Linked DNA regions of Homo sapiens: region 2 is linked to region 1. A link means that fine-mapping ties the variant in region 1 to the expression of a gene that starts in the linked region. Tissue or cell type: whole blood. Region 1 holds a variant in brackets; the other region holds the start of a gene. All regions are shown on one strand. Distances are between the middles of the regions.

What was found. PIP is the estimated chance that this variant, and not a neighbour inherited with it, causes the effect.
Region 2: CLK4 starts here. The variant in region 1 is fine-mapped to the expression of CLK4 in whole blood (TOPMed, PIP above 0.99).

The regions. Positions count from the first base shown.
Region 1 is chr5:178,684,058-178,692,241 of GRCh38, reverse strand. It overlaps a transcript of MSANTD5 not described here. Among named protein-coding and RNA genes, the nearest start is that of MSANTD5, 9.6 kb to the left of the region's middle. The variant C/G (reference allele first, on the strand shown) is at 4,731.
Region 2 is chr5:178,622,235-178,630,418 of GRCh38, reverse strand. CLK4 (CDC like kinase 4) reads left to right here and starts at 3,369. Exons shown (of 13, transcript NM_020666.3): 1 at 3,369-3,473; 2 at 7,003-7,163. The coding sequence starts at 7,003. RefSeq lists enhancers at 1-333, 3,401-4,010, 3,743-4,423.

The DNA of each region.
Region 1 (8,184 bases):
TGCCTAGCTAATTTTTGTATTTTTAGTAGAGAGAGGGTTTCACCATATTGGCCAGGCTTGTCTCGAACTCTTGAGCTCAGGTGGTCCACCCACCTCGGCCTCCCAAAGTGCTGGGATTACAGGCATGAGCCACAGCGCCTGGCCTAATTTTTTTTTTTTTTTTTTTTTTAGAAACTGCCAAACTCTTTACCAGATGGCCGTGTCATTCTACATCCCCACCAGCAATGTATGAGTGAACCAGTTTCTCCATATCCTCACCAGCATTTTGTTTTGTCACTATTCATTAAAAGGCGAATAGAATGGCCTTCAGAGTGTCCATCGCAGAGGGCCTTAGCAGAGCTTAGAATGATGGGACTGGCCTCTGCCCAGGGCCCCTCTGCACAGCATGACAAAGCGGTGATATCTACTTATGGCTTCCATTTTCAGTTCCCTGGCGGCTGATGATACGGAGCATGTTGTATGCCTATTTGCCATCTGCATATCCTCTGCAGTGACATGGCTCTTCATGGTTTTGGCCATTTTCTAATTGGATTTTTGTTTTTACTGTTATTATTTGAGAGTTTTTTAAAATATATTCTAGATATTCGTTTTATGGGATATGGGTGTTGCAGATACTTTCTCCCTGTTTGTAGCTTGTCTTTTCATGCCCTTCTTATGGGCTTTCACAGAGAAAAGACTTTGTGAGGTACAATTTACCAACATTTTAATGGGTAGTGCTTTGGGTGTCAAATCTAAGAACCCTTTGGTTAGTCCTAGATCCTGAAGACTTTTTCCTATATTTTTCTTTTTCTTTTTCTTTTCTTTCTTTTTTTTTTTTTTTTTTGAGATGGAGTCTTGCTCTGTCTCCCAGGCTGGAGTGGTGCAGTGGCATGATCTTGGCTCACTGCAAGCTCCGCCTCCTGGGTTCACGCCATTCTCCTGCCTCAGCCTCCCGAGTAGCTGGGACTACAGGCGCCCGCCACCACGCCTGGCTAATTTTTTGTATTTTTAGTAGAGACGGGGTTTCGCCGTGTTAGCCTGGATGGTCTTGACCTCCTGACCTCGTGATCCACCTGCCTCGGCCTCCCAAAGTGCTGGGATTACAGGCTTGAGCCACTGTGCCCGGCTGACTTTTTCCTATATTTTTCTTAAAGTTTTATAGTTTTACATTTTGCATTTAAGTCCCTGGTACATTTGAGTTAAATTGTGATTAAGGTTTGTGAAGTTTAGGTTAAGGTTCATTTTGTGTGTATGTGCCTGTGAATGTCCAGTTGCTCTTCTCTGAAGAGGCTATCTTTTCTGCGTTGAATTTCTTTTGCATTTTTGTGACAAATTAGGTGGGCATATTTGTGTGGTTCTTGTCATGGGTTCTCTACCTTGTTCCATTGGTCTGCACTCTGCTAATATCACACACCCTTGTTTACTATAGCTGTATAAGTTATTAAATCATATAAATTAATTCTTCCTACTTTGTTCTTTGATTGATTTTTCAAACATTGAACCAGCCTCATATCTCTGGAGTACATCAATTGTCCATCATATAATTTTTTCATCTATTATTGATGTATTAGTAATGTTTTATTAATGATTTCTGCATCAGTATTCAAGAAAGATGCTGTTTTACAGTTTTGTTGTACTGTCTTTTTCTGGTTTTGGTATCAGGATAATACTAGCTTCATAAAGTCCATTTGCAAGTGAAATAAGCTAGCCACAGGAAGATAAATACTGCATGCTCTCACTTATATGTGGAATCTAAAATAGTCAGACTCATAGAAGAGAGTAGAATGGTGGTTTCCAGGGCTGGAGGGAGGGAGAAGTGGGGGGATGGGGGGATGCTGGTCATGAGTGTAAATTTCCGGTTACTCAAGATGAGTAAGTTCTGGAGATGGAATGTACAGCATGGTGACTATAGTTAACACTATTGTATTTTATACCTGAAATTTGTTTAGAGGGTAGATCTTAAGTGTTCTCATCTTACACACACACACAAAGGTTAACTATGTGAGGCGATAAATATGTTAACTGACTTGACTATGGTGCTCATTGCACAATATATACATATATAAAAAATCAAGTTTTAAAATCGATACCTTTTTTTGAGACGCAGTCTCGCTCTGTCACCCAGGCTGGAGTGCAGTGGCGCGATCTCGGCTCACTGCAAGCTCTGCCTCCTGGGTTCACACTGTGACATGGGGCTGGAGAGTTGATCTAAACTGAGGGAGGACAGTGAAGGTGTCCCTGGCCAGCTGAAGGCAAACTGCTTCAGGTGGGCCTTCTGGACAGGGATGGAGAAAAAGGTGTGTGTCAGATCAATAGTTACATACCATGTACCAGGATATGTGTTAATTTGCTCAAGCAATGAAACAGCATCTGGTACAGCAACTGCAATTAGAGTTATCACTTGGTTAAGCTTCTGGGAATCCACCATCATTCTCCAGGATTCATCTGTCTTCTGCACAGGCCAGGAGAGTTGGACAAGGATGTGGGGTAGGAATCACCACCCCTCCATACTTCAAGTCTTTGATGATGGCACTCATCTATATCATTCCTCCAGGAAGGCAGTATTGGTGTGTTTTTTGTTTTAGTATTTTTCTAGGTAGAGATGGCTGTAACGCCTTCCATTTGTCCTTTCCCATCACAATTGCCCTCACTTTATAGCTCAGGGAACCCGTGTGGAAACTCTGCTAGCTGCTGAACACGTCTGTTCCAACTACACATCTGGACCCGGGAAATGACCAGAGAATGGGTTCCGGGACCCGCTGGGCCCACGGTGAGTTGGACCTGAGTTAAAGCTCCTGGTACCAAGATATGGAAAAACCTCTTTGACTGTCTTATTTCACTGGAAAACAGTATGGAGTTTACTCAAAAAAATTAAAAATAGAACTACCACATAATTCAACAGTGCCACTTCTGGGTATGTATCCAGGATCTGGAAGAGAGATCTGCATCTCACGTTCATTGCAGCACTATTCACAGTAGCAAAGATACGGAAACAATCTAAGTGTCCACTGACAGGTGAATGGATAAAAAGAAAACTTGACACACATACACACACAGCGGAATATTATTCAGCCACTTTAAAAAAGAAGTCCTGCCTATCAACAACATAAATGAACCTAGAGGGCACTATACTCAGTGAAGTGTGACAGAGACAGACAAATACTGTATGGTATCACTTATATATGGAATCTAAAAAGAAGAAACATTTCCAACTCATAGAAGCAGAGAGCAGAGCAACCTGGTGGTTGCCGGGAAGGGAGGTGGGGGAGGAAATGGAGAGATCTTGATCAAAGTGTACAAACTTTCAGTTATAAGATGAAGGAATTCTAAAGATCTAATGTACAGCACGGTGAGCATAGTTAATAATACTATATTTTATACTGAAGCTTGCTAAGAGAGTAGATCTGAAGTGTTCTCACCGAAAAAGGGAGGGGGTAAGTGTGGGAAGTATTGGGTAAGTGCTGTGGTTTGGATATTTGCCTCCAAATCTCATAATGTGAAATGCAATCCCCAGTGTTGAAGGTAAGGGCTAGTAGGTGTTTGGGTCATGGGCGTGGATCCCTCATTAATGGCTTGGTGCTGTCCTTGAGGTCATGAGTGAGTTCTTACTCTATTAGTTACCAAGAGATCTGATTGTTTAAAAGGGCCTGGCATCTCTCTCTTGCCTCCTCTCTTGCCATGTGACATGCCTGCTCCCTTTTTGCCTTCCACCAACAGTAAAGCCTTCCTGAGGCCTCCCCGGACTCCCAGCAGTTACTGGTGCCGTGTTAGTGCAGGCTGCAGAACTGTGGGCCAAATAACCTGTTTTCTGTATAAATTACCCATCCTCAGGTATTCCTTTACAGCCATGCGAAACAGACTAATGCAGCATGCTAATTAACTTTATCATGGTAATAACTTTATTTTATTATTTATTTACTTAGAGTCTCATTTTGTCACCCACGCTGGAGTGCAGTGGCACCATCTCAGCTAACTGCAACTTCTGCCTCCCAGGTTCAAGCAATTCTCCCATCTCAGCTTCCTGAGTAGTAGCTGGGATTAAAGGCACATGCCACCACACCTGGCTAATTTTTTGTATTTTTTTGGAGAGATGGGGTTTCGCTGTGTTGCCCAGGCTGATCTCAAACTCCTGGCCTCAAGTAATCCTCCCGCTGTGGCCTCCCAAAGTGCCGGGATTACAGGTGTGAGCCACCAGGGCTGGCCAGGGTAATCATTTTAAAGTGTTAACATATGTGAAATCATCAGTTGTACACCTTAAATAGATACAATTTTCTGTCAATTATGCCTCAATAAATTGAAGAAAATAATTTTTTTCTGGATATATTTTCTGAAAACTAAAGTGATTTAAGTTACATAAACAGAAAATAGTATCAAACTGAAAATAGACCCAAATTTTAACAGTTTTTATTTTACTAGAAATAATACTCTTTAGTTTTTCATTTTGTTTTTATATGATCATATATTTCTTTCTTTTCTTTTTTTTTGAGACAAAGTCTCGCTCTGTCACCCAGGCTGGAGTGCAGTGGCGCGATCTCAGCTCACTGCAAGCTCCTCCCACGTTCACGCCATTCTCCTGCCTCAGTCTCCCGAGTAGCTGGGACTACAGGCGCCTGCCACCATGCCCGGCTAATTTTTTGTATTTTTAGTAGAGACGGGGCTTCACCATGTTAGCCAGGATGGTCTCTATCTCCTGACCTCATGATCTGCCCGCCTTGGCCTCCCAAAGTGCTGGGATTACAGGTGTGAGCCAC[C/G]GTGCCCGTCCATAATCATATATTTCTATCAAAGTAGAGGGAAATCCGGCCAGGTGCGGTGGCTCATACCTGTAATCCAAGCACTTTGGAAGGGCGAGGCAGGAGGATTAACTTGAGCTCAGGAATTCAAGACCAGCCTGGGCAACATGGTGAAACCCCGTCTCTTCTAAAAAATAAAAAAATTTAGCCAGGCGTGGTGGCGGGCACCTGTAATCCCAGTTACTCTGGAGGCAGAGGCGGGAGAATCGCTTGAAACCGGGAGGCGGAGGTTGCAGTGAGCTGAGATCAGGCCACTGCACTCCAGCCTGGGTGACAGAGAGTGAGAGCTTGTCTCAAAAAAAAAAAAAAAAATGTTGAGGGAAATCAAATATACTCAAAACCTTCTCTTGTAGCAGAGTTCATGAGAGGAAAAAAAAGAAAAAGAAATTTTTTTTTGCACAGAGTCTTGCTCTATCACCCAGGCTGGAGTGCAGTGGGGCGATCTCGGCTCACTGCAAGCTCCTCCTCCTGGGTTCACGCCATGCTCCTGCCTCAGCCTCCCGAGTAGCTGGGACTACAGGCGCCCGCCACCACGCCCGGCTAATTTTTTTGTATTTTTAGTAGAGACGGGGTTTCACCGTGTTCGCCAGGATGGTCTCGATCTCCTGACCTCGTGATCTGCCTGCCTCGGCCTCCCAAAGTGCTGGGATTACAGGCATGAGCCACTGCGCCTGGCCCAGAAAATGAAAAATTTTAAAAATTATCCTAGAAATTGTCAAATAGCTGATTTCAGACCAATTATCTTGCTAAAGAAACGTAGAAAAGTCAGTCAAAACAGAAAACATATATTTTTGAAGGAATTAAGGAGCTCTTAAGGCAGCCAAGACGTTGATGGGGCTTCTTTTTTTTTTTTTTTTGAGATGGAGTTTCGAGCCCAGACTGTAGTGCAGTGGCGTGATCTCAGCTCACTGCAACCTCCCTCCGCCTCCCAGGTTCAAGCGATTCTCCTGCCTCAGCCTCCGGAGTAGCTGGGATTACAGGCATGCACCACCATGCCCGGCTAATTTTGTATTTTCAGTAGAGACGGGGTTTCACCGTGTTAGCCAGGATGGTCTCGATCTCCTGACCTCGTGATCTGCCCGCCTCGGCCTCCCAGAGTGCTGGGATTACAGGCGTGAGCCGCCGCGCCCGGTCACGTGATGGGGCTTCCATCACAGACAGGAGGGAAGCCCTGAGAAGCCAGCCTGGCCTTTGGAGTGACTTCTCCCCTGTGAATATTTGCCGCTTGGAAAGCAGGAGCTGAGAGGCAGAAAATCTGTGCACAGTAGAGACAAAAGCCGGAGTTCAGGGGCCGATAACACCGCAGGTATTTAGCTGTGAGCCTTGTAGGTTTACACCCTAGCAGCAGGGCTGAGCTTGACATACAGTGAAGACCAATTTGGATCCAGCTCAATGAGTGATTGGATTAAGGTGGGCTACCTCTTGCCTATGTAGATAATTAACTAAATGTAAATGGACTGGGTATTCTTGGAAAGAGAAACTTTCAACTACATGCATATAGTAAGAAAATATATATGTGGCCTCTGCCCCAGTGTCCTGACGCACAACTTCTAAAGCCCTCGGAATCTCCAAAGCAATTTTGTATGCTAATGACATGACGGGTGGCTTGGGGCTCCTGGACGGCCTCAGGACAGGGGCTGATTGCCAAGGGAACCAACCTGGTGATTAGAGATTTGGAACTTTTTGGCCCATTCCCCAATCTCCAGGGAGCAGAGTTAATTACCAACAACCAATGATTTAATCAATCCTGCCAATATAATGAAGCTGTCATAGAAATCCTAAATGATAGGGCGTGGAGAGCTTCTGCTGGCTCCCCTCCGTCACCGACTTGCAGACTCCCAAGGAGGGAGAAGTATGCATCCCCGACCCATTGGCTTTGAGTTTGGCCACGAGACTTGGTTTGCCCAATGACTAGTAAGCAGATGTTATAGTCACTACTTCTGAAGAGAAGCTTTAAGAGCCAACGCCGTTGCTGCTTTCTCTCTGCCAGAGAATGACAGTTTGCTCATTCAGCGCAGGTACTGGAATACCTCAGACTGGGGTAAAGAAGACATGTGTGTTACACAGGAACGGAGCTGCAGCTCACAAGTAGCAGGTAAGAGAAATAAAACCTGTCTAACGTAAGCTGCTTAGACTCGGGACCGTTTGTGATTGCCGCAAAGCTAACTGATAGAACTTGCATGCAGTAATATGCAAACATAAGGCATTGCCTTTGGGTCCAGACAGCAGGTGGCTAAGAAACCTATTGGATGATATCAAGTTGACAACCCATGTCGTGTAGTGGGAAACCTTTTTGTAAAACTGTATCCTGCAATATTATAGAAGGCATGGACCTAAAAAGTTAGCTTTAAGTAAAGAGGCTGAGAAATACATGATTACTGGTGTGGTTTATTTATTTGTTTATTTATTTATTTATTTATTTATTTTTGAGACAGAGTCTGGCTTCATTGCCCAGGCTGGAGTGCAGAGGCACCATCTAGGGTCACTGTACCCTCCGCCTCCCTGGTTCAAGTTCAAGTCATTCTCCTGCCTCAGCCTCCCAAGTAGCTGGGACTACATGTGTGCGTCACCATGCCTGGCTAATTTTTTGTATTTTTAGTGGAGATGGGGTTTCACCATGTTGGCCAGGCTGGTCTTGGACTGCTGACCTCAGGTGATCTGCCCGCCTCGGCCTCCCAAAGTGCTAGGATTATAGGCGTGAGCCACCAAGCCTGGCCTTGTGTGGTTTATTTATTAGTTGGTTCTGCATTTGACAAGGAACTCTGAAGGAAAGATGAATCCAAAAAAATTTAGCAAGCAGGGATTAAAAAGAAATGAGAAGACCCAAATAATCTAGGACTGGCAAGTGTGAAAGATTCAAATGTTTCTCATTGTATAATATGTTTCTCAACTATGTAAGATAAAGCTGAAAATCTTTGCACGAAAAAGGCTAAACCACAATCATTAAGATGGACAAAATGATTCACTGGAAAGAAGCTAGGTCTGTAATCCCTCAGAAGTTTCTTAACCTCAAAGTATTAATACTAGCTGACATGGAAAATGAGCAATGAATCTTAGCTTTGAGATTTGGGGGATCTGATGAGCATAACCTAATCAAGGCAATAAAATGGATGAAATCTTTCAACCATTTACTATTCCAAGAGACGATCTTGACGACTTCTTTCTCTTCAGTCCCTCCACACTTCTTTACTGGATTTGGACTCACTTGATAACAGTGTTTTCTACTTCAGTGAAAAAGGGAAGAAATGAAAAGAGAACAAAACAGAATTTCTACAGCTCCTATTACCACATGGACACAAGTACCCACATCCTCATCCTTCCTGTTACCACAGATCTGTGCTCTTCTGTACAGTAACCACTAGCTGCAAATTTAAATTAATTACATTTTATAAAATTTAAAATTCATGTATTAAGT
Region 2 (8,184 bases), 62 kb after region 1:
AATGATCACTTGATAGGATTCAGATGATTAAATGAGATCATGTATATGAAGTGGTTAGCATAGAATGAGCATTTGATAGCTAAAAGCAAGTCTAATTAGTAAGTATCAGTAACCAGCAGCTAATAACAGAGGCTATAACTGCAAAGGTTTATACCTTTGTAAAGGTTACTCTATACGGTAATAAGCTTTTGTTTAATTTACACAATAATTTAGACTTTTACTCTAAAACCTGGCTCTCATATATGAGTGTTTTTGATGTCTGAAGTTAAGCATGTCGTATACATATCCTAGAATATGTGATAAGAATATTCCTTTGGTTGCTCTTCAAAGCTAAAAATTTCTTTTTTTTTTTTTTTTGAGACAGAGTCTTACTGTTACCCAGGCTGGAGTGCAGCGGCACGATCTCAGCTCACTGCAGCCCCGCCTCCTGGGTTCAAGCGATTCTTCTGCCTCAGCCTCCTAAGTAGCTGGGGGTACAGGCACCCGCCACCATGCCCAGCTAATTTTTGTATTTTTAGTAGAGACGGGGTTTCACCATATTGGCCAGGCTGGTCTCGAACTCCTGACCTCATGATCCGCCTGCCTCGGTCTCCCAAAGTGCTGGGATTACAGGCGTGAGCCACCGTGCCCAGCCAAAAAAATTCTTAAACTAGTTCTTTTTGTTTTTGCTTTTGAGACAGGGTTTGGCTCTGTCACCCAGGCTGGAGTGCAGTTGCACGATCTTGGCTCACTGCAACCTCTGCCTCCTGGGCTCAAACCATCCTCCCACCTCAGCCTCCCGAGTAGCTGGGACCACAGCCATGCACCACCATGTCCAGCCAATTTTTTTTCTGTATTTTTTGTAGAGATGGGATTTCACCATGTTGGCCAGGCTAGTCTTGAAATCCCAGGCTCAAGTGATCCACCCACCTCTGCCTGCAACCTGAGATTACAGGCGTGAGCCACTGTGCCCAGCCTTTGACTAGCTGCTTGGACACATCAGTTAACTCAAAGGTTTTTTTGGACATACTGTTCTTGTGTAGAGATGAAACCACTGGATTAGGCAGTGTTTCTGGTATTGGTAGTAGATTCTCAGAAATTTAGATAAACCTTTTCATTAAGTCTTGCCAGGTAACTGACTTAATAGGAAGGGTTGAGGCTGCCACGAAAGGGTGGTAAGCTAACTGGTGCAGTGATGCTGGGATGAAATGTCTACCTTTAACTTACTCACTTTGACCTTAAACCAACTGAGCAAAATGGCCCAAAGCAGCTTATGTAAACAACCTACAAATATTTACTGGGTTCTAGGCCTGAGATACCAAAGACAATATAAATCAGGTCCTTGTCTCCAAACTCAGCACAAAGCCACAGAGAGTGACTAGGGGCACCATAGTGCTGCATCACATAGCATAGAGGTGCTAGTCATTCTCAGCTTCCTTCTGATCACTACACACTTTTAAACATTAGACCTTTTGGTGGCATACAAATTAAAACACTAAAGCGAGATGAATGTAATTACAAAGCAGACTCTACTATTGGGTAACAGTGTGTGTGACGTCTATAATATAAAGGCCTCTGTAGGTGGCATTTCAAGTGGCTGCTTTTTAACATAGTGTTGCTTTTTTGAGCAGAATTGTGGGCTGTCCTGACCACACTTTCTTATAACCCCAGGAGGCAGGATCTCTCCTACTCCATGAAACAGGAGAACATTCTTTGGTGCCAGCTTGAATTTACATTCTCATATGCTGCAATTTGAGCCCCACTCTACCTTGTATTATCGCCCAGACCAGTCAGCTCAACATTCTATCTAATAGATTCCCTTGAGACGGGATGTGTAATCAATTGTAGAACCAATACATTTCACTCTTTGGGCAAAATCTGTTAGCATACCAGGTGGCTCCAAATACTCCACTATTTGAGGACTTCACATCTAACTGGAGTAGTCAGGAGCCGGGAAATGGGTGGGAACTCATGTCAGAGACAGCATCTTAAAGAAATGGCCTTTCAAGGATGAGTAAGATTTAAATTTGTAGATGCAAAAATGGTGGCTATTCTAGATGAAAATAATATCATTTGTTTCATTCTGTAGCATAAAGAGTTTACCCTTCCAGTTTTCCAAGTTTCTTTTCAACTTCGCTTCTTGGAGTGCAATCTCCATGAAAATTCAACTTACTTTTTGAAATGCTGTACAATCTCCGAGATTTATCTAAATTTACCCTACTTACCCAAACCAGATGGCACAAGTTTCTATCATGTTAGATCACTAAAGGTATTTCCGTTCCCTCCTTTCACCTAACAGGATAACAGGTCTCCCACATGCTACTGGGCTAATACCCGCAAGAGTTCAACCCTACCCTCCCAAATTTGATTTCTAGCTTTCCCTTTTATCCAGCGAATCCCCGTCAGAATACAGAAGCCAACCCCCACCCCGCCCGCCGTCCCCCCCCACGATCTTCAGTCTCACCTAAACCCTTTCCCTCACTTACGCCCTTCCTTGCTTTGACACCCTATTCTTGGTTCTCCTCCTCTGCTGATCATTCCTTCTCAGGCCCCTTTCCCTCTGGCCCTTGAGTGTTCCCCACAGGGCTCCGACTTTGACCCTAATATTTCTCATGTTACATACTTACACGGGGGAACTGCCTGAGGGTCCTCAGAACTGCAGAATACCTTATTTGAGGTAAGCAAGCCCCATAACGGACTATCACTAGCTCAGAGACATTTTTCAGCCTTGAATAAAATCAGCCCGCAGGGACAAAAAAAAATGGGGAAAACTTCGTTAGGGAAACTTCCAGCGACCTTAACTGCTCAGGAGGTAGGGATCCTAACAGGAAAACCTTGTCAGGAGTCTCCATTGAAACCTCCGGGTTTTTGTTTTGTTCTGAATAGGAGCACGTGCCTTGAAAAGATTAGCACCCCTTGAGCTTGTTTTCTGAGACAGCCTCTTTGTCCGAATCCACCTTAGACTGGAAGCGCCAAGTGGGCAGGACAAGCACCCAGTCCAGGGAACAGCCCAGGGACCAGCCAAGGCCCGCCCTAGGCGGTTTTGGGGCCGTTGTCGGGTGCCGGCTGCGGGAGTTGAGGTCCCGGGGGAGGGGGCAGACACGCGGTACACACTGAGGGCGGGACACGGGCGTTCCTTCCCGGTTCCACCCGAGCCCGTAGAGAACGTAAACACCCTCCCGGCCTAGAGGCCCCGGGACCGGGTGGGCGGGGGGGGGGGGGTGGAAATGCTTGGGCCGCGCAGCCGCAGTGTGGAGGCTCGAGCCCCGCTCTTACGTCACGTGGAGCCCCGCCCTTAGGTGGAGCGGCGGGAGCGCGCAAGGTTCTGTCACGCAGGCGCGTTCGCGCGGCGTAGGTGGTGCTAGAGGCGACTCGGGGGATTCTAGGGCGACGGCGCTGCCGCCATTTTGTGGGGTGTTTGTCGCAGCGGCCGAGGAGGGAAGACGGCAGTTTGGCGACATTTCTCGGCCGAAGGGCCATTTGCTTTTGCGGAGGTAGGGTTGCAGATGGTGTGTGCTGGGACAGGCGGCTGTCGGTCTTTAGGTCTCCGAGCCAGGTGTCGGAGAAACGACCGCGTTAGGGGCCTGGGCTTCTGGAGCTGAGTTGGGAGTTCTGCGAGGCGCTGCTCGGCTGGTGCACGCCGGCAGCACCGAAAGTTGCTCGGGCGTCGCGGTTCTGCCGCTGACCCTTCTCTGAGGGCCCTGGCCGCTCGCGTCGCGGCTCCGGAGGCCGTGGGCTCGCGGTCCCCTGCTGCCTGGCGAGCGCGGCTGTTGGTTAACCCTGTCGGGACCTCTTCCAGCCGGCGGGCGCTAGGACCTGTCGGGAGACCCTTCGAGAGCCGTCTCTGGCATTCGTGTTGTCGGAGATCAAGTCTTCCCCTGGATTCCTGGCCTGGGCCGTTTGTAGCGTTTCGGGGGTTTTCCAGAGTCAAGCATTTGCCCCTGTCTTGAGTGCGCCAAAGGCACTGGCCGGGTGCCCAGGAGCCGGGAGGTGGGGACCGGGCGTCCGTGCAAATCCAGGTGGTTGAGGGCAGTAGCTGCTTGTGAGAGGTGGAAATTTGCGGAGGCTAGTCCTCTGTGCTATGCTGAACACAACATTGTTGCAGCGAACCTGCGTTTCTGGTGGTTTTGCATCTTATTATCCCTGGTTGCCTAAATAGTCCAGATAGGCTTATCCGATCCTTAGGAAACCGCCCCGCAAACTGAACTCGCCAGCCACTTTGTCTTGCCTCATAGCTGTCCTGTGCGATTGTGCTTTTTACACACCCCTACAGGCTTGTAACCCATTAAATGCAGTCCTCTTGGAGCCATCCAATCCTAAACTTATAACCTGTTTCGATGTTTTTAAGCCATGTACGTAGCGTAAAGTTGTCAAGAACTACAGGATCTTAAGGGCAGTGGCGATGGATCTACATATGAGATCCATTGTGTCATTATTTTTTGAAAGATACCTACTCTAGCATGTGGGATGCTTTATTAGAGGCAGTGTCATGATTCTAGATAGCTTTTCTTTTTTATGTATGCGAAGGAACCTTACCACGTAGAACGTGGGTCGGGTGATCTTTGTGCCTCCAGATAAAATATTTTTGAACATTGCAGGGTGAGTGGGGGAGGTCAGAGGCTGGGACTAACAGCTGAATTACATTTGAAGTAGTGAACTTGAGAAGAATTTTGGACTCTCACAACGGAGCTCGTTCTTATTTTAATGTTTGCATATTAACTGATAATTTGAGAGTTCTGTTTTGCTGGAGGTTAGCTGGTTGTAAGCAGACTTACAGTAGAAGAGGAAAAAACAAAACTGAAGAAGATACATAAGTCTTGAAAAAAACTTCATAGTAATGGAGGGTCATAATAATAACGCTCGGTCATCAGATGTGATTTTGCTTGCTATGATTTAAAAATGCTTAACCAAGCTGAGTTCCTGATGTGGTTAAAATACAACTTTGGTATTTGACGGAACGCTTCAGAAGAACTGCACTTGAAATACACATTTTCTTTTTTTTTTTTTTTTTTTTTTTGAGACAGGGTCTCACTGTCGCCCATACTGGTATGCAATGGCGTGATCATGGCTCACTGCAGCCTTGACTTCCTTGGGCTCCAGTGATTGTCCCAGTAGGTGGGACTACAGGCTCGAGTCACCATGTGCGGCTAATTTTTTGTATTTTTTGTAAAGGCAGGGTTTCGCCGTGTTGCCCAGGCCAGTCTCGAATTCCTGGGCTCAAGGGATGAGGCGCCACTGCGTCCAGCCATAAATTTTTCTTGATAGCTCTAATGAAGAAAGTTTGTGTTTTGGCCTTTTGCCTCAAGTAAATGTGTGCTGTTATTCATGTCACGTTCCCATATGGAAGTGACTCCATTTGTATCAAACCGGAATGCTCACTTCCATTGAGACGCTAACAAGAGTTTTAGAATTGCTGTTTGGCCTGATCAGTGCCTTCTCTTCCTCTGTAAAGTGAGCTGAGAGCCACCTTAGAAGGATGCTTGATGGGTATAGAATTAGAATCAGCAAGAGAGTGAATTAAAATATCTGACTATCTGGTGGCAATCAGACTCTGATGGCGTGACACATACTTTCTTGTGGAATACCTCCCAGAAGAATTGAAGCTGCCTCACTCCAAAACCTTTAATCCATTTAAAATCATTTAAATTTCTGCTTGCATTTGTTTGCTTATTAGTCATTTGGGCAAGCTGAATGAGGTTAACTGAGTGGGTTTTACTCCATTTTAGCTTTTTTCAGCTCCTTGCTGAATTGTGAAATTCTTCTCTTTTTACCATTTAAACTCACCCTGTTTAGGAGAATTTGGACCTGACTGTTAAAACTTAACTGTTTTGGAAAATAATTAAGATGGGGAGAGACAGATAGGGGTTATATTGTTTGAGCGCAGATGCTGAGCCTGGAAGGAACCCAGGTTATGCACTGGAGTTTGTAAATAAAGTCAGCTGTCACCGTTATCGTTTGCTTTCACTGTGACCATGCTTCAGTGTGCATCCTTGTAGGTTGAGTTCTTTTTCAGAGTTACTCCAGATTTACTACAAATAGATTTTAAGGTTAAGAATAACTGCTGGATAAGAAAATGAACTTGTTGGATAGAGAAAATGAGTTCATAAAATCACATAAACATTTAAAAAAATTTTTTTTGTAGAGACAGTTTCACTATGTGTAGCGCAGGCTGGTCTCAGACTCCTGGGCTTGGCCTCCCAAAATTCTGGGATTACAGGCATGAGCCACCGTACCCGGCCTAAAATCACCTTTTTATATCTCTTCAGTTTCTCTGTTGAATATTGTGTTCTATCCACACAGAACTAATATTCTCAAAGCTTAGAGTCATTCTGAGATTTAGAGAAAAGAACTATGGAGAATTTGAGAAAAAGAAGCTTCATCATTGAATAGCTCTTTACCATTAAAACAAAGTCACCTCCCATATTTAGTATCCCTAAGTGTTTTTGTCTTGCACTTCAGTTATTTGTATTACAGTACTTTGCCAAAGCTGCATGACACTGATATTATTTCTCCTTAAATCAGCTCACATTTTAATGTTAACATTTTTAAAAGAAAATATGTCAATAACTTAATTGGAAAATCACTAATAAGTAGAAAGTAACAAAATAAGATAAATAAAAACGTTACTAATTTTTAGCTAAATACTCTTGTCTGCTGGAAACACTAGGCCTGAACCTTTTTATTTGCCCCCCCCGGCTTTTTTTTAATTTTTAAAAAGGCAGTTAGCAAGTGTTAGTTGAAGACAAGCACCAAGCTGAGAATTTGTCCTGGCTGTAATCAGAATTCAAAAAAAAAAAATGTCTTAAGGTATCAGTATTACCCACAATTTAATACTAGATCTCTATGCCTCTTAGCAGTCATCTGACATACCAGTGCCTTGGGAAGCATTACCACCTAAAAAGATTTTGGAGCCTGTAAGACCCTGTGTGTTGGGTTTTGATAACTTAAATAATATTAATATATAATAATTTACCTATCACACATCTGTAACCTCCACAATTCCCTTTTCATTTCTATCAACAGATGCGGCATTCCAAAAGAACTCACTGTCCTGATTGGGATAGCAGAGAAAGCTGGGGACATGAAAGCTATCGTGGAAGTCACAAGCGGAAGAGGAGATCTCATAGTAGCACACAAGAGAACAGGCATTGTAAACCACATCACCAGTTTAAAGAATCTGATTGGTAAATTAACTCTTGAACTACTAGCATTTTAGCTCTAATAGTTTTAAATGATTTGTCATTTGCTTATATAGCTTTCATCTGTCAAATTGTTTTATAATTCAGTCAACAAATATTCGTTTAGAAAATATTTGAGTACTTATTTTAGATAGGCGCTGAGGCTACAGCTGTAAATAAAACAAAGTTCTTATCCTTATGTATGTCTGTCTGCCTGGGAGTGGTAGGAGACAGTTGATCAGTAAGTGAATGTGAAATGTATTAAATAACATGGTGAGTCCCAACTGCCAGTAACGTGATTAGGGAGATGACACACAAAAAGTTAAGTAATAGTGATAGAATGCCCAATGAGTACCTTTAACTTGTATGTAGGAGGGAGATGGGTATGTTGTAGTGCTCATTGTTTCAGAAATAAGGTAGGGTTTTATAGGGGAGGAGTTATTCCAACAGAGAAAAGCAGCATGTATTATTAGTCACTTATACCATGTCGTACAGGTTATATTTGTAGATGAGGCCAAGGGATATGTTTGGGATTTTTAGAAGCTGGCTTTATTTAAGAACTATTCTTTTGCATAGGTAGTAGCTAGTAATTTGGGAAATGGCCTCAATAAAAACTTGCAACAGCATGTGTGCTGTTTTATTGTATTCTTACCAGTGTACAATTTGGAGGTAATATATTTATATAGAATTAAAGGAATCTTAAAGTTCTAAATGATTAAAGAAAGGCTAGGTAAGTTTTCACTCTTTCATTAATTTCCCTTTTTCGTTTGTTTTGTTGGTTCTGTTTTCTCGTTTTGTGCAGATGTTCCATTGGGACTGTTTACCAGATTGCTTTCTAAATTAGCCAGCTGGGGTTACTTTAAAAAACAGTATGTAATTTCTTTCCTTCTCCACGTTAACAGACTTGTTCTGCCAAACAGCTTATTTGTAGTCAGTGCAGACAAATCATGCTTCATACGCATTGTTATATAAGGGGAAGGGGGAAGGTTTATGACAGGATTTCAGAGACCAGAGATAATTAATAATT